3 separate regions of the Homo sapiens genome follow, and all the other regions are linked to region 2. Evidence: fine-mapped expression QTL. A gene starts in region 2. Each other region holds a variant in brackets. All regions are shown on one strand. Distances are from middle to middle.

Region 1 (10,481 bases), 33 kb after region 2:
CCCAGCTACTCGGGAGGCTGAGGTGAGAGGGTCACTTGAGGCTAGGAGTTCAGGTTCATCCTGGGCAACATACGGAGACCCTCTCTTTAAAAAAAAAAAAAAAAAAAAAAAAAAAAAAAAATATATATATATATATATATATATATATATATATATATAATTATTAGGCCAGGCGCAGTGGCTCATGCCTGTAATCCCAGCACTTTGGGAGGCCGAGGCAGGTGGATCACGAGGTCAGGAGATTGAGACCATCCTGACCAACAGGGTAAAACCCCGTCTCTACTAAAAATACAAAAATTAGCTGGGTGTGGTGGCGTGTGCCTGTAATCTCAGCTACATGGGAGGCTGAGGCAGGAGAATCACTTGAACCTGGGAGGCAGAGATTACAGTGAGCCAAGATCGTGCCACTGCATTCCAGCCTGGCAACAGAGTGAGACTCCGTCTCAAAAAAAAGAAAAAATTATTAGAAGCCTTTAAGAAATATAGTGGCGAATACAAAAATTAGCCGAGCATGGTGGTGCATGCCTGTAGTCCCAGCTACTGGAGAGGCTGAGGCAAGAGAATCGCTTGAACTGGGAGGCAGAGGTTGCAGTGAGCTGAGATCATCCTAAATAGTCTGTTCTTCGGAAGACTAATAATGGTTTCTTACCTTGCTATTAATTAAAACTACTTTTTTTTTTTTACAATAAAGATATTAAAATGACATTTTAAACAATGCAGAAATGTATAAAATAAAAAAGTAAAAGGTCCTTCTTAAATTCCCAGTTCCCAAGAGTACAACTGTTCAGAGTTCACCGTTAGTTACTTTCTGTGAGTATGGAGTTTTTTTCTGAGCAAATTATCTTACTAGCACCAGGCCCTATTCATATGCTAGAAGTTATCTTTTGATTTTTTTTGCTTTATGAGAGGTCATCTGTCATAGATTTCTGCTAGTTCAGTTGAGAAGCTCTGCCTCCTGTCCTGCCATCCTGCGTATTAGTGTGCTCAGAGTCGGGCACAAATGTGGGTTCAAGTAACACTTTCTTTTTTAGCCTTTTAAAAAGTATGAAATACAGTCAATACATAATAGTAGATTAATCCTTATCATTCTTGGGATTGATTTAGGCTTCTTGACTATACCAATTAGTACCTTTTAATTAGTCTAGGAAAATTCTGAGCCATCATCTATGGCCCACTCTTTCATTTAGTTTTGTGTTTTTCATTTTTTTGGTCAGTGTGCTCTGTTCTGGTTAATTTCTGCTAGATCTATCACCTTAAGGTAAAAGCAGCCTTTGGTTGTTTGCCTCCCTTTCTGTGTTCTTGCCTCATCACAGGCTTTGGCCTGATGTCTCCTTGCTATTTCATCAGCCCTTTGGTGCTTTTAAGGAGAGGTTTGTGTATTTCATCTAACATCTTTAGTTGATCTCAGGAAGGAGATTTGTCTGAACAACCCAGTGTATTAACAGAAGTGAGCATTCACAGTGTATGTTATCTCTGGTCCAATTTCTACTTATGCTAAGAAAAGTACAAAGTTGTACGTATAAGAATGTTTATTGAATTGTTACTTAATCTATGGGAAGTCTTAAGAATCTCCTATATGCCAGTGAACAGAGGATTGGTGACTTTGGTCTTTTGTACAAAGGAAGAGTACTGTGCAGCTTTGGAGGTAGGAAGTAGCCGTATGTGTTATTGTGGAAAGAGAGCCATCATCTAATACTTCTGTTTGGAAAGCACATTAGTTAGTTTATAGATGACTCTGTGTGATGTGATCCTTCTTGTCACACTCACGTACTGGCCCAGGGGCACAGGCAGCAGCCCGGCACACCCTGCGTGCTGGGCCTGTAGCGTGCCGGATGGATTACCACTCTTTAGGACTAGCTAGATTACAAATGAATGCCTGAAACTCGAAGTGTCTGTTCTCATACTTTTAAGTTCATATGTGAAACTCTCTTTGCTTTCTTTATGCATGGTATCATAATATATTTGGGGCTTTTCTCTGGGCAGTCGGATCAACTATGGCTTTGGCTATTTATGGAGGTTTGGGCTACTTAGCCACTGACATTTATCAAGGTGTGTTCCAGGGACTGTATGAGACAGCGAGAATATGACAAGTAAAAAAGACTTTAACTCTGATCATCTCTGATCATTGTAGAGATGATCATTTAGTCATCCAGTTACACAAATAAATGCTTTTTGGAAATAAGTTATCTGAAAGCCAGCTCTATGGGGGTGTAAAACAAGGATTTGACTTGGGCTGTGGTGTCAGGAAAGTAACAGTTGAGCTTTGATCTGAAGGGTGAGTGGACCTTACTGAGGCAGTGTGGGGGTGCAGGGAGGGAAATGTGTGCAGAGGCCTTGTGCTGGGAGGAAGCCTGGTATTCCAGCCCTGAAAGAGGGGCCAGTGCTGCTAGGGAGTAGACAGTGGGTGTGGGAGGGCTGGGCAGGGTCAGCTGGAGGCTAATAGCCTCCTAAAGAGGTCCATGTTCTAATCCCCAGGACCTGTGAATATATCACCTTCATGGTAAAGGGGTCTTTGCAGATGCAAATTAAGGATCTTGAGATGGGAAGATTTTCCAGGTGGGCCTAATGTCATCACAGGGTTTTTCCTAGAGGGAAGCAGGAAGATCAGTCAGTAGTAGATGTGACAACAGAAGTCATAGGTTGGAGTGATACAAGGAAGAGGCCATGAGCCAATGCAGGCAGCTTCTCCATGGCTGATAAGGCAAGGGAATAGATTCTTCTTTACAGAGCCTCCGGAAGGATCCAGCAGCCATGCCAACACCTTGTCCTTCTCATCTTTGAACCTCTGCTTCCAGAACTGTAAGAGAATAAATGCATGTTTTAAGCCACTAAGTTTGAGGTAAAATGTGACAGCAGCAGTAAAAAACTAACACACTTGTATTGGATGAGGTTGGATGAGATAGGCAAGACTAGTAATAGGGCCTGTGGGCTGTAACGAAGAGTTTTGGTCTTAATACTCAGAGCAGTGGGAAGGTATGAAAGTTTCCATGCTTTTCTTGGGATGACTGTGAAGGGAGGAAGAGGGTGTCATGTGTTTAGATTTGTGTTTTACAAAAAGTGCTTTGGTCATATTTTTGAGAGTTGATTGGAGGGGGCCAGAGTGGACCTGAGGAGAATTGGAGGCATTGTCCTAGTCCAGGTGAGACTTGATGGTGTCTTTGACAGAGGATGGCAGTGGAGGAGGAGAGCCAGTTGAAGGACAAACCGGACAGGAATTGGTGATGCCTTGGACACAGGGTGAGGGAGGAGGCCACAGGAGGCAGAGAGGTGCTGTCCACTTCTTTTTCCTTGAGATGAGGTCTTGCTATGTTGCCCAGGTAGGCCTTGAACTCCTAGACTCAAGTGATCCTCCAGCCTCAGCTTCCTGAATAGCTGGGACTGTAAACATGTCACCGTCATGTCTGCTAAATGTTTTGAAGTGTTGAAGTGCCTCTGGAGCACTGAAGAAGTAAGGTCAGGTTATCGTGTGTGTGTGTGTGTGTGTGTGTGTATGTATACATACACACACACACACACAGACACAAAGCTATTTCTATGTCTATTTCTATTAAAACCATGAGATTACACTGATGCCTCTAATTCCAGTCCAGTGCCACAGGTTTCAGCATGAACATTTTGTTATATCCAGTTATAAAATAATTTGATTCAAAACACTTTTGATTTTGGCCTGATACAGGTGTTATTTCACTTATAAGTATTAAAAATTATTTCTAAATAGAAATCCAAGGACACCCATTCAGTGAATTTCTATCGATTACAGTAGAATCATTTTACATGGTTAAAGATTAATCATTTTTTAAAAACTGAGATTTATTTGCATTGATAAATGAAATCTTTCCTTACAGTGTGAGCCTAGTTCTAGGTTGTCGACTCCTGAAGGGTTCTGTTGCTTTCACACAACAATTTGAATTTGTCCTGGGATACAGTCTTTAGATTGTAGTTAAATTCCACAGTGCTGCCTCCTTTTAAATGTGGTGATATATTTAGTGGCTGTTTTCATCCTCCTTTTAGCTTTTCTTCTGGTTTTAAGAGAATGGCCTATGTGGAATGTCTAATAACCGAAAGAGAAACATTATTCTTCCTTCAAGTTAATTTTGTATTCAGAATACTAGTCCATATTTGGAGAAAGTCATATATAATTATCTATTTGGAAGATTTAATTTTATGGTTACATCAGTAATCCAGTAATTAAAATTATTTTCTGTAATATATAGTGTGTAGATTTGAAGATAAGTCTTAAGTTCACCATGTGAACTGACATACTTACCAGTTAAAATTCCTTACATGCTGTTTAGAACCTCTAGGTGCTGAACTTTTTGGTTAGATTTCATATTTGGTTGATGGTGATATAGTGATATGTCTTAGTGAAGAGAACTAGCAATTTTTATGGCTTCCAGTTTTCCCCAGTTCATGTAAAACATTGTGTTGTTAATCATGTAGGATAAAGAGACAGCAAGAAAATAAGAATAGTCAATTTTAAGGTTGAGCTGGTCCTCATGCCGTTTTTGGATTTTTGCTTTGTTGTATGTAGTTTGTTGATTTGCCTTAAATTATCCGTGATGGATTTCCTTCTTATTCTGTTGCTGATGCAAAGGTGCGAGAGCCACACAGCTGGGAACATTTCTGCTGTTTGGTTTCCTGTCTGCCCTTTGGCAGTGTACGCGGAGGCAGGACTTGATTTGTGCTGGGTCTGCTTCAGCCAGTGACCTAAAAATGTCAGCTTGTGTTTTGCGTTACATGGAGAAGGGGCTATGGTATAGACAGTACCGTTAGGACTTCTGGCATTTTTTCTTGTAAAATTTCTGTCTTTAAGTAGCAGTCTTCAAAATGCATGTAATCAAGTAATGTAAGCCAATATTGTCTAAGTAACAGGGCTTGTTTAGCGGCATGTGAGCCAGGGCTTGAAGTCTTTTAGCAAAACGAACGTGGCTGCAGCCTTTTTCGTCTTTCTAAAAGAATCTTTGTCACCTTCTTTCCCCTTTGAGTAGCTCTTCCTCAGCTTCTTACTCCCACCCTGTTCCTCACTAGAATACTTGCCTCTCCCTTTGTCTGCATGCTGTGTCTGGGCTCAGGGCCTTCTTTCTCTCAGTCCAGTTCACAAGGGCCATGGGGATTCTCTTCCCCTTCTTTCATTATGTTCAAGAAGGCCTAGGTATATTAACTGGGAAAACAAGAAGGCATCAGTAATTACCATAGCACTGAGAAGAGGAATGGAAGGAAAGTGAGACGTGATAATGGAAAGAAAATCCCTGTTTTAGTAAACTTGGCAATCACTAGTTAGGCTGATTAGAAGATTAAAAAGCCATAGGTCAGGCGTGGTGGCTCATGCCTGTAATCTCAGCAATTTGAGAGGCCGAGATCAGGAGTTCAAGACCAGCCTGACCAACATGGTGAAACCCCATCTCTACTAAAAATACAAAAATTAGCCGGGTGTGGTGGTGGGCACCTGTAATCCCAGCTACTCAGGAGGCTGAGGGAGGAGAATCGCTTGAACCCAGGAGGCAGAGGTTGCAGTGAGCCGAGATCGCGCCACTGCACTCCAGCCTGGGGGACAGAGCAAGACTCTGTCCAGAAAAAGAAAAAAGAAAAAGAAAAAAGGAAAAAAAAAAAAGCCATATCGGCAGGACAGCTTTCCTGAGTTAGGGGTCACTAATATTTTAGGAAGAACATACTCACAAAGAAGCTATTTTTGCTTTGAGAAAGTATGACAGATCTGGTTCCTCTGTTTATATAATTGAGAACAGGGACCACGTAACTTTGATTCAAATGTGGGAAAATAGCCACATTTTAATTACATGTTATTAGACCAGTTAGGAAAATGGGAATATATGTAGGGAAAAGATGTAGGAAAACAAGAGAGAAGCCTGGTTGTGTGTTTTATTAGGAAAGGCCGAGGGTGACACAGCAGGAGATGCTGGTCAGAAACAAGGGGCTGATAGGAAGGGAAGGTGAGTCGTGGGGTAAGGGAATGAGTGCGGTGCTAAATTTGGCTAAGAGTTTATTTTGGAAGTAAAACTTATTTCCCAGCAAAAGTTTGTCTTCCGTGAGTTTTGATGATTTGCCAGTTTGTCAAGTGATGACCAGAGGTTTAGAATTTGTAGTGCAGCCAGAGAGCAGGGCATGTTTTTACAAGAGGGCAGAGAAGTGTGCCTGGTCAGAGCTCTGTGTCATGTATCCTGAGCAGAGGCAAGCTGCCTGCTTTCCTGATACCTGTATTTCATAAATTGTTTGATTTATTTATTGCTAT[C/G]ACTGATGTATTTTAGTAGCAGGGAATGCACACTTAAATTGATGCATTCTGTTGAAATTTCAAGGAAAAGTTTTCTCTTTAACTGTTTTGGTACCACTGAATCAGCAATGAGTGCGTGTTTTACAGGCCTGTTTTAGAAGGCAGTGCTGAGCTTGCAATATTGGTGGCTGTGATGGAGGGATAGAATGTTCTCAGTTTGCTTTTATACAAGATTAATAGTGGGCTGCTAAGGGAAGTTTCTTAAGAAATTAAACTTTTTATTTTAGATTCGGGGGTGCATGTTCAGGTTTGTTACAAGAGTATATTGGGTGATGCTGAGGTTTGGGCTTCCACTGATCCCATCACCTGTATAGTGAACACAGTACCCAGTAGGAAGTTTTTCAGCCCTTGCCCCTCCCTCCCTCTTCTTCTTGGAGTCCCTAGTGTCTGTTATTCCCATCTTTATGTTCGTGTGTACCCAAGGTTTAGCTCCCAGTTGTGAGAACATTTAATATTTGGTTTTCTGTTTCTGTGTTAATTTGCTTAGATGGCCTCCAGCTACATCCATGTTGCTTGCTGCAAAGGACATGATTTCATTCTTTTTTATGGCTGCATATTATTCCATGGTGTATATGTACCATGTTTTCTTTATCCAATCCACCATTGATGGATACCTATGTTCGTTCCATGTCTTTGGTATTGCCCTGATGGCAGTTTTAGCCTGTAGAAAATGTATTTTTGTATTTGAGTGTGTGTGTGTGTGTGTGTGTGTGTGTATGCTGTATCTATAGATTAGAACATTGAGTTATCTTTTTCCAGATAAGAAATGGCATTGTATTTGTTTGTTTTGCCTTAATCCAGGTCCAAGGCCATCTTTGGCTAAATTAAGCAGTGTGACATGCATCCCAGGGACAACTTATAAATATCCTGATTTGCCTATAAGTCGATACAAGGAAGAGGTAAAATTGTTTTGTTATACTGTAATTTTGCTGTTTGAATACATGTCTGAGGCCCAATACTTTTGGTTTCTAATTTGAAAGTTACCAGTTGCCAGGTGAACACTTCTGTGGTGTACAAGGTTCTGTGGTGGATAAGAGGAGGGTGTGCTCAGGCCAACCTGCAGATGATTTTGTGTAGTAACCATATCGATGGCTTTTCTTTTGATCTGTGCTTTAATTTCTTTAGTCTTCGCCTGAGTACATCTTCTAACATTTAGTTTATCTAGTCTTTCCTTCCTCAAAATATCTGCAAGTAAACACTTAGTCTTCCCCAGGAGAGCTTCTTGTTTAAATAAACTCACTGCTAAATGTTTTTATGAAGCAAATGACATACCCTAGCATTTCCACTGGGTTTTCTTTACAGCGTTGGCCCTTTCTCTGCCTGTTGATTAATGTAATCAATCATTGACATACCATTGTATTAACAATGCCAGGCAGATGTAACAGTAGGACGATTAAGTTCCTAATTACTTGCGTGTTATTAAGCATCGTTAAGAGTAAGCGTATCGGAACCTTTATTAACTGGAAGAAGGAGTTACAGATAAAACTAGAAATGTTTCAAATTTAATTTTTACTTTGCTTTAGAGTAAATCATGCAACTAAAAATTAGAGGCCAGTATTCAAATTAATTTGTATTTCCTGACCATATCAATTGTTAGAAGGATAAGAGCTTAAATAAGTTTAGAGTGGAGGTCGGGGAGTTCTGGAGGAGGAATTTGAGTGGAGTTTTAAAAATGCTGCATATAATCTGTAAGTGGAAAAGTGGAAGTTACTTGTTTCCAAATATGTCTGGAGGTGGGAGGATCACTTGAGGCCAGGAGTTCCAGACCAGCCTGGGCAACATAGCAAGACCTCATCTCTACAAAACACACCCCCCAAAATTAGTGGAATATGGTGGCACGTGCCTGTGGTCCTGGCTTGGGATGCTGAGGTGGCAGGATGGCTTGAGCTTAGGAGGTCAAAGCTGCAGTGAGCCATGATTGTGCCACTGCACTCCAGCCTGGGTGACAGAGCTAGAGCCTGTGTCTAAAAATAAATAAACAGATATTTAATAGATAAAAATATGTCTGAAGAATTTAAGATGACATTTTAAAACCACTTGAATGTAGTAACAGCTCTTTTTCTCATGTTCAGTAGAATTATTTGCAGATTCATTACAAAATGTTAATAGAAACTTGGGAAGAGTCATAGAAATCTAATTTTACATTTTCATTTTTACAGAAGCAGTTGAGACCCAGGAAGCTGGAGTTAACCTGGCCTGGTTTTTCCACAGCTATCACTAGTTACTATTTTTTTTGTTGTTGTTTTTGTTTTTTTGTTTGTTTGTTTTGAGATGGAGGCTTGCTCTGTCGCCAGGCTGGAGTGCAGTGGCACGATCTTGGCTCACTGCAACCTCTGTCTCCAGGGTTCAAGCAATTCTCCTGCTTCAACCTCCCAAGTAGCTGGGACTACAGGCGCGCTACCATGCCCAGCTAATTTTTGTATTTTTAGTAGAAGCAGGGTTTCACCATATTGGCCAGAATGGTCTCGATCTCTTGACCTCGTGATCCGCCCGCCTTGGCCTCCCAGAGTGCTGGGATTGCAGATGTGAGCCACCTGTGCCCAGCCACTAATTACTGTTAAATAGGTAGTAGAGTTGCATTTAAGTGTGGCAACCGTTTGTCGCCTCCTTGCTCTCTTGTGTTGTGTTTAGAATGGTTAATTAATAACTTTAAGCAATTTGGGAAATTGCTGGTAATCCCAGCAATTTGGGAGGCTGAGGCAGGCGGATCACTTGATGTCAGGAGTTCAAGACCAGCCTGGCCAACACGGTGAAAGAAACCCTGTCTCTACCAGAAATACAAAAATTAGCTGGGTGTGGTGGTACACGCCTGTAGTCCCAGCTACTTGAGAGGCTGAGGCATGAGAATCGTTTGAACTCAGGAGACAGAGGTTGCAGTGAGCCGAGATTGCGCCCCTGCACTCCAGGCTGGGCAACAGAGCGAGACTCCATCTCAAACAAAACAAAACAAAACTTTAAGATGAAAGAAAAATAAATCCTGAAAGACTTCTTAATATAGGTGATACTTTACATTGCCATTTTGTGCTGATTTTGAAAGAATTTTTTAAATTTCTAGGTTGTGTCTTTGATAGAAAGTAATTCCGTGGTGATTATCCATGGGGCCACGGGAAGCGGTAAAAGCACTCAGCTCCCGCAGTATATCTTGGACCACTACGTTCAGCGCTCCGCCTACTGCAGCATTGTGGTCACCCAGCCCCGGAAGATAGGGGCAAGCAGCATCGCCAGGTGGATCAGTAAAGAGCGTGCCTGGACCCTGGGAGGTGTGGTGGGCTACCAGGTGAGACTGGGAGGGAGGGAGGGACTAAGAGAGCCAGCTGTCTCTCTATTCCTTAATTTTATTAAGTTTTTTTCTGTGTAAGTTGATAGTATGTGACCATTTTCTGCTGAAAATTAGTTGTGTCTCATGCCTGTAATCCCAGCACTTTGGGAGACCGAGGCAGGCGGATCACATTAGGTCGGGAGTTTGAGAGCAGCCTGGCCAACATGGTGAAACTCCGTCTCTACTAAAAATACAAAAATTAGCCGGATGTGGTGGTGCATGCCTGTAGTCCCAGCTACTCGGGAGGCTGTGGCAGGAGAATTGCTTGAACCCGGGAGGCAGAGGTTGCAGTGAGCCAAGCTTGCGCCACTGCACTCCAGCATGGGCAACAGAGTGAGACTCTGTCTCAAAACAAAAAACAAACAAACAAACAAAAAAAGAAACCAGCTGCTTATAGAAGAGAACTGTGGCATAATTTTAAAAAGCAGTGAAACAGAATTTCTTGAAAATAAGGCTGGGCATGGCGGCTCACGCCTGTAATCCCAGCACTTTGGGAGGCTGAGGCGGGCAGATCACTTGAGGTCAGAAGTTTGAGACCAGCCTGGCCAACATGGTGAAACCCCCTCTCTACTAAAAATACAAAAATTAGCCAGGCATGATGGCACATGCCTGTGATTCCAGCTACTCAGGAGGCTGGGGTATGAGAATTGCTTGAACCCGGGAGGCAGAGGTTGCAGTGAGCTGAGATCATGCCACTGCACTCCAACTTGGGTGACAAAGTGAGACTCTGTTTCGAAAAGAAAAAAAGAATTTCTTGAAAATAAATTGTAATTTCTTTCCAGTTGAATAGGAAAGCAGTAAGAATTCTCATGCTTATGGCTTTTATAATTTTATCTTTTTAATTATATCTGTAATCTAGAAGATGTCTTGATACAC
Region 2 (10,481 bases):
CTAATGGCTGAGAATTTTCCAAAAGTGATGAGAAAAAAATCATGCCAAAGATTCAAAAAGCCTTACAGAGGCCAGGCGCGGTGGCTTACGCCTGTAATCCCAGCACTTTAGGAGGCCAAGGCGGGCGGATCACCACACCATCCTGGCTAACACGGTGAAACCCCGTCTCTACCAAAAATACAAAAAAATTAGCTGGGTGTGGTGGTGGGTGCCTGTAGTCCCAGCTACTCCGGAGGCTGAGTGAGAGAATGGCGTGAGCCCGGGAGGCGGAGCTTGCAGTGAGCAGAGATGGCGCCACTGCACTCCAGCCAGGGAAACAGAGCAAGACTCCGTCTCAAAAACAAAAACAAAAAACAAAAAACAAACAAAAAGCCTTACAGAAACCAAGCAGGCAGATAAATAAAAATAAATCAATACCTTGAAATCTCACAATAAAGCCATAGAAAAGATAAAGATAAAATCTCAAAGAAAGTAACCACCAATCAAGAATTCTATACACAGGGAATTCTATACACAGGGAAATTGGCATTCAGAAAAGAAGGTAAAATAAAGACAGTTAAGGACAAACTAAGAGGAAATCGTGCTAGGCATGGTGGCTCATGCTTGTAATCCCAGCACTTTGGGAGGACTGCTTGAGCCCAGAATTTTGAGACCAGCCTGGCCAATGTATTAAGATCCCATCTTTAAAGGAAAAAAAAAAAGAGGAAATTATTAGGTTTTGAAGGGAAGGCAAGGGTTAAAGACAGACAAGACAGACACACACACACAGAGGGAGGGGGGGAGGGGAGAGGGGAGAGAGATGGTGGCTTCAACAGCAACACAGGTTTATTGCCAGCAAAAACCCGTGGAGCGGATAACCAGTTTAGTGCCCGAGCTCACTGCCGCTTCCAGGCTGGGGTAATTATAGGTCTGGGCTGGATGGGTCTGGGCAGTATGGCTTGCTGCCTGGCAGGATGTGATAAGGATGTTCCCGCAGTCAGGCAGTTGGGCAGGATGTTTCTTATGGTCAGAGCCCCCATGGAATGTTTCACTCCGACCAGGGTCTGTGAAATGGTGGGGGGTTTATAAAATGGTGCAGCTAGGACTGAAATAATCACAAGCAGATCCACAGTAAAATAAATGTTCATTATTCAGGCACAAGGAAAACGAGCTCAGATGTGTCAAGATAAAATAATAAAAGGCTCAAGATCCAGTTAAAATCATTTTTTTTCTTTTTTGAGATGGAGTCTTGCTGTGTCGCCCAGGCTGGAGTGCAGTGGTGCGATCTTTGAAAATGTAAAAGTGTTATTCCTCTCACACACACACACACACACACACACACACACAATGTTTTTTGGAAAACATAGTGACGTTTTAGAAAAATACACTGTTTAACATCAAACGGGTTTATCATTTTAAAATAAATAAGTAAAAACATTTCTCAGTTGTAATCCCTGATAGACATAACCCACATAAACAAAATCTCTTTAGGGTCCTCAGCAACTTTTAAGAGTGTAAAGGGGTTCTGAGACAGAACCAGGTTTGAGAACCACTGTCCTATAGTAAAAATGTTTTAGAGTTTTAGATTTATAATGACTTATAACACTGCTGAGGACGAGAACAAGCATTTAGGAAAAACTTAAGGAAGAACATCATGGAGAGCTGCTTCAAGACAGAGCTTCTGAACTTCCAACTAGACTTGAGATCAATAGACTTTGCTATGTTGCCCAGGCTGGTCTTGAACTGCTGGCCTCAAGTGATCCTCCCACCTTGACCTCTCAAAGTGTCAGAATTACAGGCGTGAGCCACTGTGCTCAGACCAAGAGAGTTTTAATGTCTTTAGTTTCAAATCCAAAACACCCTAAGAAACGCACATCTTAAAAAAAAAAAACAACCAAATGTTTCTTTTTTTTTTTTTTTTTTTTTTGAGATAGAGTCTTGCTCTGTCGCCCAGGCTGGAGCACAGTGGCGTGATCTTGGCTCACTGCAAGCTCTGCCTCCCGGGTTCACGCCATTCTCCTGCCTCAGCCTCCCAAGTAGCTGGGACTACAGGCGCCCGCCACCACGCCAGGCTAATTTTTTGTATTTTTAGTAGAGATGGTTTTTCACCGAGTTAGCCAGGATGGTGTCGATCTCCTGACCTCGTGATCCGCCCGCCTTAGCCCCCCAAAGTGCTGGGATTACCGGTGTGAGCCACTGCGCCCGGCCAAAAAAACCTAAATGTTTAAGGAAAGGGCCACTCCAGCAGATTTATTCAAAGTGCAGAATGTTGCATCTTGTGGTAGGAAGGCTGGAGAAGACAGCAAGCTACTTCGAGCACAGCTTCCTCTGCTTTGAGGAGAGTGCTGCTGAATGGCACCAACACCATTTGTAACTGCTCTCAGCTGTTAGTTTCCCCTTTTTGGTGGACGCTCAAATGCTCAGTGAATGCAAATATGCAAAACCTTCCCAAAATACCATGGCTCACTAGGGGTTCAGTGGCCTTCCCATGTGTTCTGGCCTAGATGTGACAAGTCCATGAAGATCTATCTGATGTCAAGCTGTTTCTTGTTTCTTTTTTCTTTTTTGAGACAGAGTCTTGCTCTGCCGCCCAGGCTGGAGTGCAGTGGTGCGATCTTGGCTCACTGCAACCTGCACCTCCTGGGTTCGAGCGATTCTCCTGCCTCAGCCTCCCGAGTAGCTGGGATTACAGGTGCGCGCCACTACACCCAGCTAATTTTTGTATTTTTAGTAGAGATGGGGTTTCATCATGTTGGTCAGGCTGGTCTTGAACTCCTGACCTCACGATCTGCCCACCTCAGCCTCCCAAAGTGCTGGGATTACAGTCGTGAGCCACCGCGCCCAGCCCAAGCTGTTTCTTTTAACTCTGAACTTTGGACAGCAATGCAAGGTGAACTTGACCAAGTGAGTTGGGAGCACCGAGAACTACTGAATCAAATGAAAGGTGCTCAAAGCCATTCAGTCTGTGATGATTCAGAATGTTAACTAGTGTTTGGTCAGGAAACACTATGGCAACTTTCCAAATTGGCAAATTTCCAAAGAAGCATCAAGAGAGTATCTTTGGATTGCAATTAAAAAAAAAATCAAAACTCAGAAGGATTAGCTAGTAGCCCAAAAGATCAAAGAATATAGAAAATGCCCCCCAGAAAATGTTTTTGAAAAGCATCTTCCACTTAAAATCGTATTCATTGTGACATCAACAAAGGATGACAGCACACGGTAACAGCAACATCCTAGAAAAACAGGCCAGGCGCGGTGGCTCACGCCTATGATCCCAGCATTTTGGGAGGCCGAGGCGGGCGGATCATGAGGTCAGGAGATTGAGACCTTCCTAGCCAACATGGTGAAACCCCGTCTCTACTAAAATACAAAAAATTAGCCAGCCATGGTGGTGCATGCTTGTAGTCCCAGCTACTCCGGAGGATGAGGCAGGAGAATTGCTTGAACCTGGGAGGCAGAGGTTGCAGTGAGCTATCGCGCCACTGCACTCCAGCCTGGTGACAGAGCAAGACTCCGTCTCAAAACAACAACAAAAAACAAAACAAAACAAGTGTGAGTTCTGGAGTTGCTTCAAGTGGTTTCAATATATTTTGTAAAATTTTGAATTATGTCCTAGCCTCCACATACAGTGTGAAGTTACAATATTTTCCAATCAATGCTGAATGACATACCATGAGTCTCAATTACTTTATGATTACCTTTTTTCTTATTTTTTGAAAAACATGACTGGGCATGGTGGTTCATGCTTGTAGTCTCAACACTTTGGGAGGCCAAGGGCTCCCAAACAGATTGCTTGAGCCCAGGAGCTTGAGACTGGCCTGGGCAACACAGCGAAACCCCTGTCTGTACTAAAAATATAAAAAATTAGCCGGTGTGGTGGTGGCGTGAGCCTGTAGTTCCAGCTATGCAGGAGGTTGTGGTGGGAGCATCACCTGAGCCCCCGAAGTTGAGGCTGCAGTGAGCCCTGATTGCAGCACGGCACTCCAGCCTCAGCGACAGGAGTGAGACCCTGCCTCAAAAGAAAAAAGAAAAGCAAGTTATTTCTTCCTGGCAAAGTGTGTTGAGGCACTTTTGGGAACCTGTCGTATTTGGCAGAGTCCTAATATGAGGTCTAGAGCTCATTATGCCAGGATTTGGAGCCAGAACTCCTGGCTTAGTATGATTATGGGTTCAATTTTTGAGACACCAATAGCTCAACCTACCTGCCTGATTTCTGTCTACAGTGTTTTCAAACCGCCCTCTTATTTGCCACTGCTTGGGCTTTACACTGCTGATTAGAGCCATGCTCTCGATACCGTCTCTGTATTTGTTCACATGGCTCTTTCCTGAGAGCCCACATGGGCCAGATAGATCCTGCCCTGGCCAGTGAGGGGGACACACCCCAGGCAGGTGGCCATGTCTCTCTTCTGACCCTCCCTTCCCTTGCACACGTGGCTGCCTTCCCGTGCATCCTTTGTTGATTTCTTCCCGCGGCTCCTTCTTTTGGGGAGTTTGCTAGGGCTCTGTTCTCCACCCTCACTCTTCTAGAGCTCGGCCGGGACCACCTCAGCCTGTATCTTTGGTCCATGTGATCGCCTGGACCTCCTGTCCGCACCTGTTTGTGTCCAGCTGTGAGTCTGACACCGCCGCCTGAGACACCGGTTTAGGAAGGAAGATGAATTCAGTTATGATCCGGCTGCAAAGAACTTCTCCCAGATCCTCACCTCAGCCATCAGGGCCGCCTGCCCTCCCCTATAACCCTGGGTGGTCCTCCGTCTGGCGCATTCCCCCGTATCCTGCAGGGGTCTGCCTGGCGTTACTTTCTCCGAGACCTTCCTGACCTTCTTCTTGCCCCTCTCCCCCCATATTAGGTGCAAGGATGTCCTGGTACGTCTGACCCACGAACGCAAATCCCTTCTCTGGTTTGCCTTCCATCTCCTCACCCTGAGGTGCTCAAGAAACGTATGTAGGGTCCCGGTCCGCTCAAAGCGCACAAACCTCCGAGGCAGCAGCCTCTAAATAGAGAGGCCAGGGAGTGACCGGAGGGCATTTTCTTGTACACACAGGGGTTGCCACGGAACTCCCGTGAAACAGACTCCCGGGCCAGCCGCGGCGCTCAAGCTTCCCCTGAGGTCCTAGAAAGGCTCACCCTGGGCTCGCTCGGGGCGGCGGCTCCCGGCAGGCCTAGCGCGGCGGGGCGGGGCCGGCGGCACGAGGACCAGGCAGCGCGGGCAGCACGCGCCCGGGCCGGAGCCCGCCCACAAGGGCGCGCGGCGCGTTCTGATTGGAAGGCCTCGAGCGGGGGCGGGGCTTCCAGGGTGCGCTTCCGCCGTCGCCTGTTCCCGCCGCGGAGACCCGGCAGTTGGGGGATGCCGACGCCTGGGCCTTGAGGATGCTGCGGAAGCTCACCATCGAGCAGATCAACGACTGGTTCACCATCGGCAAGACGGTGACCAATGTGGAGCTGCTGGGCGCGCCGCCCGCCTTCCCGGCAGGGGCGGCCAGGGAGGAGGTGCAGCGCCAGGACGTGGCCCCCGGCGCTGGTCCCGCGGCCCAGGCTCCGGCTCTGGCCCAAGCTCCGGCCCGGCCGGCCGCTGCGTTCGAAAGGTAGGACGCGGGCGGGGCGGAGGCGGCTGGAGGGCGGCCGGGCGAGGCCTGGCGACGAGGGCACGGGCCATCCAGATCCTTCTCGCGAGCCCGTGCCCTCTCGCGGGGCTCCAGGGACCCCTGACCGTCCAGGGCGAGTGGTCACTACACAACCCGACGCGCGGCCCAGAGCGGTGCCTGTAAGGAAGCTGAGCTAGAGGTTTTTTTTTTTTTTTTTTTTTCAGTTCTTAATGTTTAACAGACTAGTTTTTGAGGCACTCAGGTTTTCAGGATAACGGAGCGGAGGGCAGAGGTCCCATAGGCCCCTTCCCTCCCAGAGTTTCCCCTGTGAGCATCTGCGTAAGGTGTGGGTATTTGTGACAGTCGGCGAACCTGCATCGCTGCGTCTTCGTCACCCGGAGGCCATCGTTACAGGAGGGTTCACGCCTCGTACTGGACGTTCTGTGGGTTTGGACAAACGCCTAACGTCACGCATTACAGAGTTCACTGACCTACAGATCTTCTCGGCCCCACTGTTCCTGCCTCCCTTTCCCTACACCACGTGGAAACCACTGATTTTTTTACTGTCTCCATAATTTTGCTTTTCCATACTGTCATCTAGTTGGAATCACACAGTATGTGTAGCCTTTTTGATGGGTTTCTGTCACTTAGTATTAGTATGCATTTGGGGGTTCCTCCATGCCTTTCCATGGTTTGATAGCTTCTTTCCTTTTAGCACTGATTAATATTCCACTGTCTGGATGTACCACAGTTTATCTCCATTCACCTACTGAAGGAGAGCTTGGTTGCTTCCAAGTTCTCCCCCCACCCCCCGAGATGGAGTCTCACTTTGTTACCCAGGCTGGAGTGGAGTGGCGCCATCTCGCCTCACTGCAATCTCCCCCTCCTAGGTTCAAGCGATTCTCCTGCCTCAGCCTCCCGAGTAGCTGAGGCTACAGGCATATGCCACCACGCCTGGCTAATTTTTGTATTTTTAATAGAGACAGGGTTTCACCATGTTGGCCAGGCTAGTCTAGAACTCCTGACCTCAGGTGATCTGCCCACCTCAGCCTCCCAAAGTGCTGGGATTACAGGCGTGAGCCACTGCGCCCGGCCTGCTTCCAAGTTTTGGCAAGGTTTTTGTGTGGACATAAGTTTTCAACTCATTGGGTAAATACCAAGGAGTGCAAATGCTGAATCTTTGTTAAGTTTCACAGACTCCCTCCTCATCTCACTATTCTTTAAGTAGCTACCATCAGTTACTCTGTTCACTTGATTTGGGTGGAAATAAAAAGCAAGAGTATATCCTCTGTTTTTAGAGGAAAGACGTAGATTTGGTGAGTAGAAACACCTGCTCCCTCTTCTCGCTCTTTAAAAAGGCCCTGGGAGAAGTACTTCCAGCTTGGAGTATCTCCGTCACTCTTGCTCAGTCCCCAAGTCCAGCACGCTTTACAGTTGAGAAGGTGGTTTTGTTTTTCTTTTTCTTGGTTTTTTTTTTTTGAGACATAGTTTCGCTCTTGTTGCCCAGGCTGGAGTGCAGTGGCGCAATGTTGGCTCACCACAAACCTCCGCCTCCTGGGTTCAAGCGATTCTCCTGCCTTGGCCTCCCGAGTAGCTGGGATTACTGGCGTGTGCCACCACGCCCAGCTTATTTTGTATTTTTAGTAGAGACAGCATTTCACCTTGTTGGCCAGGTCGGTCTGACCTTGTGGTCCACCCATGTCGGCCTCCCAAAGTGCTGGGATTCCAGGTGTGAGTCACCGTGCCTGGCTTTATTTTTCTTTTTTAAAGTTACTCTTGTTTGTTAGTCTTGTCTGATTTGATGGATAGGCCCAGACTCTGGGTCAAGCTTTCGTGGGTTGCTTCAAGCCTTTGTAGAGTTCTTTCAAGTACACCTTTGGGATCTTTGGTAAATTTGGTTCTTAGAGGCATAGGGGGGACCGAGAGACCCCTTGTGCAACTTTGGAGTTGCTGTTTGTATGTTTGCACACTTTACTTCCTTGAGCTACTCTGGTAAATGATCCTGTGGGCCGCCTCCCCTACTTAATGGTCCATCACTTACTCCTTAGTTTTAACGGTGTGAACAGCATTGCTATTAAATAACCCATTGTAATATTGGAAGTAAATTATTATTGACCTTGTCAGAAAGTATAGATTTAAGTGCCATTTTAAGCACTAAGGACAAGTTTTTAAGATTTCTAGTCCTTCATGGACTGAGACTTTTATAAAATCAATAAAAATGAATTTTCAGAGCAATGAAATGAAAAAAGACAACATACTAATCGCAGTTAAAAAATTATTAGATTCAATCTGGGTGTGGTGGCTCCCACCTGTAATCCCAGCACTTTGGGAGTCCAAGGTGGGCAGATCATTTGAGGTCAGGAGTTCCAAGACCAGCCTGGCCAACATGGTGAAACCCTGTCTCTACCAAAAAAAAAAACAAAAATTTGCCCAGCATGGTGGTTTGTGCCTGCCGCCCCAGCTACTCAGGAGGCTGAGGTGGGAGAATTGCTTGAGTCCCTGAGGCAGAGGTTGCAGTAAGCTGAGATTGTGCCACTGCACTCCAGCCTGGGTGACAGAATGAGACCCTGTCTCAAAAAAAAAAAAAAAATTCAACATATGTAAAATTACTTTGTGAAATTGATGTAAACATTTTAACTTCTGTATTTAACCAGTGACAGGCAATGTTGGTCTATGAGTAGTGCTAGTTTTGATGAAATTCTTCTGGAAGTAGCTTCCTGGGCTCTAGGTGCATATGTATTCAATGCCAGAGTTTCCAGCACGTAGCAGGCACTCAGCTAAATATAGCTATATTATTGAATCCGCACAACAACACTTTGAGGTTGATGGCTTTATCATCAACTGATTCTTTCATGATTTTGTAGATGAAGCAATAGGTTTTGGTGGTAAAGTGACTTGCCCAACTTCCTGTAGCAAATGGTGGTGATGGGAAGAATGACTCCCCCAAAGATGTTCACTGGAACCTGTGACTATGTAATGTTACATGGTGAAAGAGATTTCGCAGCTGTAATTAAGGTTACAGATCATAGGACAGGAAGATTAGCTAGATTGTCTGAGTGGGCCCAGTCTGATCACATGAGCCCTTAAAAGCAGAGAACTTTCTCAGGCTGGAGTCAGATAAATTTGAAATGAGAGATTTGAAATATCATTGCTCGGAGGGGCCACATGGAAAGCATGAGAATGGAATATGGGCAGCTAGGAGCAAAGACTGGATCCCACTTGACAGCAGGTAAGGAAATGGGTACCTCAGTCCTACAATTGCAAGGGACTGAGTTTGCAAGGGACTGATCCTACAATTGCAAGGGCCTGGTTTTGGCCAACAACCTGAATGCACTGCCAGTAGGGAACGCAACTCTGCTAACACCTTGATTTAGCTTTAGGAAACCCTAAGCAGGGGATCCAGTTGAGTTCACCTGGACTTGTAATTAATTTGCCTTGTTTGAAACTGCTATGTTTTTGCGATTTGTTGAGGCAGCACTGCATTAGGGTACAAATCTGGTGGCAGAGCTGGGTTCGGATTGGGGTGAGCCGACCTGTGAACCCCGCACGGTGCCTGGCACATAGTGGATACTTGGATACTTGTTGAATGTTATTTTTCCCAGTGAAGGAGAGTGTTGAGTGAGGCATTGACATTAGTGAGAGAACATTTGACATAGGGGAGGGATGGCTTTTTTTCTTTTTGAGACGGAGTCTCGCTCTGTCGCCCAGGCTGGAGTGTAGTGGCGCCATCTCGGCTCACTGCAAGCTCTGCCTCCCGGGTTCACACCATTCTGCTGCCTCAGCCTCCTGAGTAGCTGGGACTACAGGCGCCCGCCACCACAGCCGGCTAATTTTTTGTATTTTTAGTAGAGACGGGGTTTCACCGTGTTAGCCAGGATGGTCTCGATCTCCTGGCCTCGTGATCTGCCTGCCTCGGCCTTCCAAAGTGCTGGGATTACAGGCGTGAGGTACTGCGCCCGGCCGGGAGGGATGGCTTTTATAAGCATAGGGTATTGCACAGTTAAAATGTATTTGTTAGAGATAGTCACTCAATGGTAAAATTAGTGTACACCAAGTCACTGCAGTCCGGTCTGAGAGAGTGTTGTTAAATCAGCTTAATGATTAAATCAGCTTAAATCAGCAGAAGAACATGGGCAATTTTTTTTTTAATCAGCTTAATGAGTAGTGACCACCAGCATTAAAAAATAAATAGAAAATGCCAGACTACATCATAGGTAGTTCAGACAAGAATTGCCGGAGATGGTGTGGGCGCCTGTGGGTCCCAGCATGAATCTTGCTCATGCTGAAGGTGAGTAACACCTTACTCACGATGAAGGTGTTGCCGGAGTGCCTGTGGGGAACAATTTATAAATTTTGTTTCCAGTGATTTTTACGGATTTCCCCATGTCTCCTCTTCCACATGGTACTGTATTTTACTCTTTGATGGTGATTATTCTTTCTGTTATCCTTACATTCTCGTGTCTTCACCTTGGCATATGAAGAAGAAAACCTCAGTGGCTGTGATATACCATTTTGAGCATTCTCCAGTGTGTAGCACCAGCTTTCCTGTGGATTGCAGCCCATGGCTGGGAGCCTTGCGTCACTCCCAGCTTCCTTCTGCCTTGTGTTTCTTTGTGCTTTCTGCCGTGTACTTTCCTGTCTTCACAGCTCACGTTAACTCCTGGCTCATGAAGATCTTACTTAATTCTCGCTTTTGTGTCTTTGACTGTTCAACACCTTATTAAAATGTTCTTTGTCTTTGGGAAGCCTTCATCATAGGAAGCTTTCAGATTTCCACTATCTGGTGATTACTTTCTTCTAGTTCCCTAATTTATTTTATTTTATTTCATTTTACTATTATTATTTTAAAAAATATTATTTAAAAAAACAGACAGGGTTTTGCCATGTTGCCCAGGCTTGTCTCAAACTCCTGAGCT
Region 3 (10,481 bases), 120 kb after region 2:
AAATTATTAAGTATTAATAAAAATACTGAATTTACTATTCTTATAACTATATTTTATAACTATATTTTGATTGTGAAAACTGGCAGAAAAATGCACAAGTGAAATTAATTGCTGTACTAGGGCTGGCAGAATTTAGGATAATTTTATCGGTCAATTTTTACATGCTAAAACATATACTTTAACAATTCTGAAATAATGGACTCTTCTGAAAACATTCCATTTAGGATTGATCAGAATGGCAAGTACTATACTGGAGTCCTTTGTGGTTTGGGGTGGAATCCAGCTACAGGGGCTTCCATACTGCCCGAGCACGACATGGAGCTTGCGTTTGACGTTCAATTCAGCGTGGAGGATGTCGTCGAGGTAAGGGTAGTGCAGCATCACGGCACCACAACCCTGTCTCTCTCTGGTTTTGCTTACCTGACAGTGAGTGCAGGGTCTGCTGTGGAGCTCGCGGTGCAGACACACACCTCTGGTCCTGGAGATGTGCACGTTCCTTGTCCCTCCTGGAGTCACCCTCCAGGAGGACCGCTCCTTAACTTGCCAGTTTGATGTATCTTTCCTGTGAAAAGTAACTTCCTGATGGTGCTCTCTGAGTCTCTCATTTGGTGTCTCCTGGCATAAGCTTTTCTGGGCAATCAGCTAAACCACGGGGCTGTAGGGCTGCTGTGGGTCTCATTCCAAGTCAGGAAGTGGAACATCCTTGCTAGTTCTTACTGGGAAAGGAGGACACAAGGTCCTGCCCCTCTGCCCTTCTCCCGGCCTGGTGACCATGCTGAGCAGAGGGCTGGGTCAGCGTGAGTGCAGAGCTGAGCTGCTTGCAGCATTGTCTGGGCACCGCACTAGCTCTGGGGTGAGGTGGCAAGGCAGACAGGGAAACTGTGTAGCAAGTACACAAAGTATTTGTATGTCATTTGAATCTAATAATAGAAATGTGGGCTCGTATTTGTGTACATTAAAAAAGATCTTTCATCGTTATAGTAATTTATTTTTATTGCATTTTACAAAGTGGGAAGACCAAAACTGATCCTTTACCACAAATAGTTTGAGAAATGCTACTTTCTAAGTACTCAGTCGCCTTTCTTTCTTAGAAGTTCCATGAGACGGGTGAGGTTAACATAACCACACTGAAGGGCCGGGGGAAAGGAGGAGCTGCAGAGACAGCTGCCGATGCTCCGGGGGCAGGTATCAGTGTTGTCTCTGCAACTGTTAAGTCATAATTGCCTGGTCACAAGAAGGGGCTTATGGGCTTGAAAATACTCCTTAAGCCATAGACCTAATGGGAAAATGTAAAACTATTAAAGTGCTACAAGCAAATTCAGGAAATCTGTGTGACTTTGGGTGTGGCATGAGTTTATAAATACAACACCCAAAGCACAATCTGTGAAGGGGAAATTGATACGTTTGAATTTATCAAAATTAAAAACTTTTGTTCCGCAAAAGACCCTCTTCAGAGGAAGAAAAGACAAAGTGCACACCAGGAGAAAATAGTTACAGGTTACATATCTGATGAAGGACTTGTATCCACAATATGTAAGGCACTCTTAAAACTCAATTATAAGAAAACAAGCAACAGAATTAAAATACGGATGACAGTAAACCCATGAAAAGATGCTCAGCATCATATGTCATTAGGAAAATGCAAATTGAGACTTCCATGAGATAGCACCACCTACTTACTGGAATGGCTGAAATCCAAAACCTGACAGTAACCAGCAATGGCAAGGAGGTGGTGCAGGGGGACCGGGGACCTTTTGTTCATTGCTGGTGGGAATGCAGATTAGTACCACTATTTTAGAAGACAGTTTCATATGAAGTTAAGCCTGCATCTACCATATGACCCAGGAATCCCATCTGTAGGTATTTATTCAAGAGATTTGAAAACTAGCATCCACATAGAGCTTGTATGTGAATATCAATTGCAGCTTGAGTCATAATTGCTAAAAACTGGGAGCAGTCAAGATGCCTTCAGCAGGCGAGTGGATAAACCATACTGATGACAGAGAATACTAACTCTGAATGCTATGAATTCTCTAACGGGATGAAATTCAGTTACGACGGAGCCTTATGAGTGTTTATGTTGCTGTTCATTTACAGGTTAATATTCTCAGGGCTGCTATTAACAAGCTAGTCTGTGATGGACCAAATGGATGCAAGTGTCTTGGGCCAGAGAGAGTTGCGCAGCTTCAAGACATTGCCCGTCAGAAGCTTTTAGGGTAAGCTGTGTGATGACGCGGGCTTCTTTTCTTCCCAGTCAACTTTCTCAGCTGCCTTGATCATGGCTGTTTTGAATTGTGTAGGCAATGTGACATATTGATCACCTGAAGTGGAGTGCCAGTGCTGGAGGCAGCACTGGGAGGCATCAGAATGTAGGCACGCCCTTCCTGTGGAGAGCAGCACCCTTGTCCTGTGTGTGTGTGTCCCTTGAAGGGACAGCGTGGGCAGGGCATGGGAAGCCACAGTGGGTAATGTGTCACCCACCATTCCTAGTGGTGGGTGTCTTAGGGATTGGGGGAGTCCGGCTTGTAGGATTGGGCCTTACAGAGCTGGGCCTCTCTTGAACCTCTCTGCAGGGGAGGTTGGAGAAGGAGCATTCTGACCTGACTTCCCTGTTTCTCACCTCCTGCTGGACTCTCCATGGGACAAACCAAACCAGAATGCAGACACAAAAGGCTCCTGTTGGTGTAGCCCATGAGCCCAAGGCAGCTTGAGGGCCCCGGGAAGGCCAAGAAGAGTGGGAGTGGTCATGGAGGAGAAACCAGCATTCCACCTACCCAGTCCTGTGCTCCTGCCCCAGAGCCAGTCTCCCTGGGAAGGGCCCGGTCCTTCCTTGCCTGACAGTGTCCTGTGCTGGCTGGGACCTGGACCTCTGTGAAAGCAGGTGGCATCTGGTATCACGGTGACACTTCTCTCCTTCCTATGCCTTTTGGGTTGGTTTCTTTTAGTTTAATAAGCATTTTTTAAAAAGCTATATATAGCTGTCTTAGAAATGGTGAGAAAGGCCAGTTTTAGTTTTCTCTCTTCATTTTCTTTTATATAAAAATATTTTTAATATTTATTTATTTATTTTTAGAGACAGAGTCTCACCCTCTTGCTCAAGCTGAGTGCAGTGGTGCGAGCATGGTTCACTGCAGCTCCAACTCCTTGGCACACATGATCTTCCCACCTCAGCCTCCCTAGTAGCAGGGGCTACAGGTGTGCACCACCACACCTGGCTAATTTTTAAATTTTTTACATAGATGAGGTCTTGCTATGTTGCCCAAGCTGGTAATTTTTTTTTTTTTTTTGAGAATGGAGTCTTGCTCTGTCACCCAGGCTGGAGTGCGATGGCACGATTGCAGCTCACTGCAACCTCCACCTCCCGGGTTCAAGCGATTCTCCTGCCTCAGCATCCAAGTAGCTGGGATTACAGGCACCCACCACCATGCCCAGCTAATTTTTATATTTTTAGTAGAGACAGGATTTCACCATGTTGGTCAGGTGAACTCCTGACCTCAGGCGATCCACCCGCTTCAGCCTCCCAAAGTGCTGGGATTACAGGTGTGAGCCACCATGCCTGGCCAGTAAAAATATTTTTATGTAAAATGTGGGTTGAAGTTTAAGTACACAGGTATATGCCCATGTGGCCAGCACCGAGGTCAGAGCCCCGGTGCTCCTTAGGGTGTGCGGGTGTGGTTGTAGCCACCATCACTCCCTGCCCCCAAAACAAGGGTAACTGTATCCTGCCTTATTATGCCATAGGTAGTAGGTATTGGTTTGTTTGTTTTAACAATTCAATAACTCTAGTGAATTTATAGTTGTGCAGTCTGTCAACACAACCTAGCTCTTCAGCATTTCTGTCATCCAGAGAAGTTTACTCATAAGTATTGTCGGGAAAGGCAGTCTCATGCAGGCAGCCTTTGATCCCCTCTCTGCTGTCTGAGAACAGGCCTTGGGCCTGAAACGCTTCCTTCCCATAAGATTAAGGGTCCTCACAGCCTGTGGGGGGCTCGTCGCCATGTGTGGGAAGATCTTTCCTTGATTCCGGCTCTGCCCTGCTTAAGCCTGTGTGTCATACGGTACCTGGTCAATCCCACCACTGCAGGGATGGGACAGGGCTCTCCTGCTGCCACATAAGAGAGGGGCCTGCAGGCCTGCCTTGTCTTCCGGGAGGTACCCGCTGGCCACAGGGACCGCTGCCAGTCACTAGAGCTGATCCTGTCCTGTTGCCTCCCTCTGTAAGTAAAGGTTCGTTCCAGCCAGGGTCTGACTGTGTGTTTTCCTTGGCGACTCCAAGACAAGATGCAGGGGTGCCCTGACTTCTCCTGGCAGCAGGCAGCAGATGCCACCTGCTTGACTAATATATTAAAACAGAATGTGTCATTGTTTGTACAACCCCATAAATTTACTAAAACTAATCAATTATGTTCCTAAAGTTGATGACTTTTAGGATATGTAAAGTACACCTCAGTAAAGCTGTGTTGAGGATCGAAAGTTCCCCCTGTCCATTTACACGCAGTCTTGTTCCCACCCCAGCCCAGGTACCACTGATCTGCTTTCTGTTTATATATTTGCCTTCTCTGACATTTTTATATATGTGGAATCACATTTTAATTTTAAAATCTGGCTTCTTTCACTTAGCTTAGTACTTTTGAGGTTTATCCATACTGTATCATGTTCCTTTTTACTAAATAATATTTCATTGTTTGTTATGCCACTTTTTTAATCCATTCACCAGTTGATAAAATATTTGGATTATTTCCAGTATTTGGCCATTATGAAGAAAGCTGCTATGAATAGTCACATACAGTCTTTTTGTGAACATGTATTTTTCTCTCGGGAAGATATCTATGAGTGGAGTTGGTAGGTTGTATTGGTAGGTTTATGTTAATCTTTTAAGAAAAGGCCAGGGCCAGAC[G/A]TATTGGCTTACGCCTGTAATCCCAGCACTTCGGGAGGCTGAGGTGGGCAGATCACCTGAGGTCAGGAGTTCCAGACCAGCCTGGCCAACATGGTAAAACCCTGTCTCTACTAAAAACACAAAAATTAGTAGGGCATGGTGACACACGCCTGTAATCCCAGCTACTTGAGAGGCTGAGGCAGGAGAATTGCTTGAACCCAGGAGGCGGAGGTTGCAGTGAGCCAAGATCACGCCATTGCACTCCAGCCTGGGTGACAACAGCGAAACTCTATCAGGAAAAAAAAAAAAAAGGAAATAGCCAAACTGTTTTCCAAAATAGCTGTACAATGTTACATTTCTACCAGCAACATAGGCTGGCTCTGGCTTCTCCACATTCTCACCAGCACGAGGCACCGGCACGTGTTGTTACTGCAGTCAGTCTGGTGAGTATGGTAGTATCTCATTGTAGCATTAATTTTCGTTTCCTTAATGACTAATGATGTAGAGCAACTTTTTATATTCCTCTTAGCCAGTCATTTATCCTTTTTTTTTTTTTTTTGGTGAAATGTCTGTTCAGATCTTTTGCCCATTTTTAAATTTGTCTTTTCATTATTGAGTTGTAGAAATTGTTTTTAAATTTTAGATACACGTCTTTTATTGGTTAAGTAATTTGCGATTAGTTTCACCATTGTGTAGCTTGTCTTCTTATTTTAATGATGTCTTCCAAAGAACACAAATTTTTAATTTTGATGAAATCTACTTGCTGTGGTTTGAATGTGATATGTTTGAAACCTAATACCCAATGCAACAGTGTTGGAAGGCTGGGCATAATAAGGGGTTGACTGGACTCATGTCATCATTGTGAGAGAGGGTTAGTTATCAAGAGAGTATGGATTGTTGTAAAGTGGGTCTGCCCCGGTGCCTCTTCCTGTCTCAAGTACTCACTTGCCCCTCTGCCATGTCATGATGCAGCAAGAAGGCCCTGGCCAGGTGCTAGAGCCATGCTCCCGCACTTCCCAGCTCCAGAACTGTGAGAAATCAAGTTCTTATCTTTGTAAGTGACCCACTCTCTGGTCTTCAGTTATAACAGGGGAAAATGGACTAAGACACTACTTTATCTTTTTTTTGAGACGGAGTCTTGCTCTGTCGCCCAGGCTGGAGTACAGTGGTGCAGTCTCGACTCACTGCAGCCTCCACCTCCTGGGTTCAAGCGATTCTCCTGCCTCAGCCTCCCGAGTAGCTGGGATTACAGGCACACGCCACCAAGCCCAGCTGATTTTTGTATTTTTAGTAGAGATGGGGTTTCACCATGTTGGCCAGAATGATCTCGATCTCTTGACGTCGTGATCTGCCCGCCTCAGCCTCTCAAAGTGCTGGGATTACAGGGGTGAGCCACCGCGCCTGGCCTACTTTATCTTTTTAAAAAATGAATTATGTTTTCGGTGCTATATCTTAAAAAATCCTTGTTAAACTGAAGGTCACAATCATTTTCTCTCTTTTTGTAATTTTTTATGTTTAGGTTTTTGATCCATTTTGAGATGATTTTGTATGTGGTATGTGATACAAGAGCCTAAAGTCATTTTTTGCATATGAACATCTAGTGGTGATGACATCATTTACTGAAAAGCTATACTTTTACCATTGAATTGCCTTGGTACCTTGGTCAAAAATGAATTGGCCATAAATGTAAAGATTTATTACTGGGTTTTCTGTTTTGTTCAATTACTTTATATCTATCTTTGTACCAGTGCTATACTGTCTTAATTGCTGTAGCATTAGTCCTCCTGTTTTATTCTTTTTCTTTTTCTTTTTTTTTGAGACAGAGTCTTGCTCTGTTGCCCAGGCTGGAGTGCAGTGGCGTGATCTCGGCTCACTGCAAGCTCCGCCCCCCGGGTTCATGCCATTCTCCTGCCTCAGCCTCCTGAGTAGCTGGGACTACAGGTGCCCGCCACCACACCTGGCTAATTTTTTTGTATTTTTAGTAGAGACGGGGTTTCACTGTGTTCGCCAGGATGGTCTCGATCTCCTGACTTTGTGATCCGCCCACCTCGGCCTCCCAAAGTGCTGGGATTACAGGCGTGAGCCACCGCACCTGGCCTGCTCTTTTTCAAAATTATTTTTACTCTTTTATATTCTTTTCCTTTCCATGCAAATTTTTGGATCAGCTTGTCAGTTTGTATAAAAATCCTTGTTGGAATTGTGGTAGGGATTGTGTGGAACCTGTGAGTCAGTTTGGGGAGAATTGCCATCCTAACAGTAGTGAGCCATCCAGTCCATGAAGATGGAGTGTCTGTTCATTTGGGTATTCTCTAATTTCTCTTAATACTGTTTTAGAATTTTCAGTGTGCAGGTCTTGCACTTTAGTTGTTTCTAAATATTTTAGTTCTTTTAATGCTATTGTGAATAAAATTGTTTTCTTAATTTTGTTTTTGAATTTTTTTTAGAAAGGAACAGTTGATTTTTATATATTGGTCTTTTATCCTGTGACCTTGTTAAACTTCTGTATTCTAGTAGTTGTTTGTAGATTCCTTAGGATTTCCTACATACAAGATCATTATTATTATGAAAGCTTTCTTTCTCTAGTAATGCTTCTTGTTTTAAGGCCTATTTTGTCTGATATTAATATAGCTACCCCAGCTCTCTTTAGCTACCATTTGTGAGCTTTTTCTATCCTTTTACTTACAGTATATTTGCAGTTTTGAATTTTTTCAAATATTTTTTTCTGCCTCGTGCCCGCTCTCTTCTCCCCTAGGGAGACATTGCTTTGCACGTCTGTCAGTGCGCTGGTGTTAAACGCGTGCTGACACGGTCGATACGGCCTCACTGGTCTTTGAGGCTCTGGTCACTCTTCTTCAGTCTCTTTCCTTTTTGTGCTTCAGATTGGTTAATTTCTGTTGATCTGTCCTAAGGTTACTGATCCTTTATTATTTCATCTCAGGTCGACGTGGATGCGGTACAGAGAATTTTCCATTTCAGTCATTGTACTTTTCAGCTCTAGGATTTCTGTTGTTTCTTTGGTAGTTTTTAATTTTTATTGAGATTATCCCTGATTCATTGTTATCCTATTTTTAAAAAACTTCTTGGCACCTGTTCACAGTGGCTGCCTTGAGGTCTTTGAGTGCTGAACCCACAGCTGGCCACACACTCAGCCTCTACTGGCTGCTCTTCTGTGTGTGGGCCACACATTCCTGTGTCTTTGATGTCTCCTAATTTTTTTGTTGGAAATTGGGTACTTTAGATAATGTACTGGAGCAGTTCCCCCAGAGCTGCTGTTTTTGGGTTTTGTGGTTTTGTTTGTTTCACTTTAGAAAAGTGCCTAGTCTTAACCTGTAAGTCCATCCCCTGTGATGTGAGGTCACTGATGTCTGGGTTCTGCTGTTTTGTTATGTTTTTAATTTTAATTTTTATAGAAACAAGGTCTCACTTTGTTGCCTAAGCTGGAGTGCAGTGATGTGATCATAGCTCACTGCAGCCTTGAACTCCTGGGCTCTGGCGATCCTCCTGCCTCAGTCTCCCAAGTAGGTAGGGCTACAGGCATATGTGACCACGCCCAGCTCGTTTTGTTTTCTTTATTCTTATTTTTATTTTTTAGCCTGGCTTCCTAGGTGTTGTCCTTGTATCTGATCTGCACAGCTTAGTGCTTAGCCAGTGATCAATCAAAAGTTGTCTTTAAATACTGCCCTGAAGGCTTCTGCCCTTTGCCATTGGAGCTAAGTATGGGTTGAAAAGTGCACTCCAAGTTCAGGCACTTTTTGATTCTTCCCTGGCCTCTATTTTTCTCAGGGCTTCCCAGGTTTTTCCCACGTGTGTGCACCCCTCCATCAGTCAGGGATGTGTGGAGGGCCTGCTCCCCCTCTGTGGCACTCTCCTTTCCAGAGTCTCCCTTTTACCTCCTGAATAGTCTGGTCTGCTGCTGGCCCCAAGCAGGATGTGGCGTGAGGCTGGAAAGCTATGGGCTTTCCCCATCTGTTTCCTTCATTGCTGTTTTTACTGACAATGCTCCAAGTCAAGGTGTGAGGATTTTTCCCCCTCTGATCCAGATCACATAGCCTTTATGGCCCTGGGAGTGCTGTGGTGCTGGGTTCAGGGGCAGGTGTATGGGGTGGGAGCGGCTCCCTACCCCAGCAAGAACTCCACATACTCCACTGTTCTCACCTGGAGCTGGCAGTTTGTCATGAATGAATGCTTCTCAACTTGTTGTTTGCCTTTGCCTTTGGTTAATTTCCAGAGCCTTCAAATGGTTGTTGTTGGTATGTATGTATGTATGTATGTATGTGTGTGTGTGTGTGTGTGTGTGTGTATGTATGTATGTATGTATACAGTTTTGCCTTGTTTTATAGTTTTTTAGTGGGGAGAGGCTCTGCAGAACTCTTTACTCCCTCATTGTTCAAATTCCCTATCTTTTTAAGCTGATGATATTTCCAACTTGTCATGATTGCTTGAGAGCTAATGGTACAAAATGTCCTGTTACATTTCAGAGAACTTGACTCATTCATGTGGTGTGCAGTGCTGGTTGCTAAGGGAACATAGAGACAAGACTAGGTCTTACAGATCTGTCACACTCCATTTCTTTCTGCTTTTGAATATGCCATAGATTAAAATATTTTCTGATCATAACTGCATAAATGTTGACCTTTAAACAGTTTATTCTAGTTCCAATTCTGTGGGAAGCATATAGGATTTAAATCTTTAAAAAAATCACAGCAGTGTTTTCAGTTACTAATATATAATTAAGATAATTTCTTTTTTTTTTAAATTAGTTTGTTCTGTCAGTCAAAACCAAGGGAGAAGATTGTTCCCAAGTGGCATGAAAAGCCCTACGAGTGGAATCAGGTGAGTGGGACGCAGGCTGCTACATGAGCAGAGGCCACGTGGAGGAGGGGACAGGCCCTGGGCAGACCCAGGGTTCAGAGCCAGGGCTGGCCGAGGGTCTGAGAGGCAGAGACAGGAGGCAAAGTGGATGGCTTTGGGGGCCAGCTGGCAAATGTCTCAGACCAGACAGGCTGTTTCTGCACAGTGTCTTCTATGTGATGTCCCGGCAAAGAGTCAGACACCAGGATAACTCACTGCCTGTGAGTTGGGAAAAAAAGGTATGAGGGTCTGGATTGAACCTTCCTGCTCTTGTTGGTCTTTGTGAAATGCACCTTGGCTGTTCCTTCCATGTGGCTGGCTTGGTGGCTTTCGGGCTGTACTGGTTGTTGTCTTTGTCTGCTTGAGCTGCTGTCACAGTGCCACCACGGGTAGGGGCTTAGGAACAGCAGACATTTGTTCTCACAGCTCTGGAGGCTGGAAGTCCTAGGGAAGGTGCCAGTTTGTGGGTCCTTGTGAGGACCTCTGAGGGACATCTGCAGATGGCCACCTTCTCACTGTGCCCTCACGTGAAAGAGAGACGTCCTCTCTTAGGGCACAAATCCCATCCTTGGGGTCCCACCCTTGTGACCTCATCTAACCCTTATCACCTCCCAGAGGCCCCATCTCCAAATAACATCACAGTGGGGGTTCGGGCTTCAGTGAAGGAATTTTCAGGGGCCACAGTTGAGTCATGAAGAAGGACAAAGCCCTTCATAGGCTCCCTGGTACTTCCTGTCTGTAGGGCTAGAAATGG

What was found. PIP is the estimated chance that this variant, and not a neighbour inherited with it, causes the effect.
Region 1: its variant is fine-mapped to the expression of TDRD9 in whole blood (INTERVAL, PIP above 0.99).
Region 3: its variant is fine-mapped to the expression of TDRD9 in whole blood (INTERVAL, PIP above 0.99).

The regions. Positions count from the first base shown.
Region 1 is chr14:103,955,992-103,966,472 of GRCh38, forward strand. TDRD9 (tudor domain containing 9) reads left to right here. Exons shown (of 36, transcript NM_153046.3): 3 at 7,088-7,185; 4 at 9,342-9,563. Among named protein-coding and RNA genes, the nearest start is that of RD3L, 19 kb to the left of the region's middle. The variant C/G (reference allele first, on the strand shown) is at 6,248.
Region 2 is chr14:103,923,160-103,933,640 of GRCh38, forward strand. It overlaps TDRD9 (tudor domain containing 9), which reads left to right and starts at 5,297. Exons shown (of 36, transcript NM_153046.3): 1 at 5,297-5,565. The coding sequence starts at 5,351.
Region 3 is chr14:104,039,972-104,050,452 of GRCh38, forward strand. It overlaps TDRD9 (tudor domain containing 9), which reads left to right. Exons shown (of 36, transcript NM_153046.3): 33 at 225-363; 34 at 2,098-2,216; 35 at 9,637-9,709. Among named protein-coding and RNA genes, the nearest start is that of ASPG, 40 kb to the right of the region's middle. The variant G/A (reference allele first, on the strand shown) is at 4,898.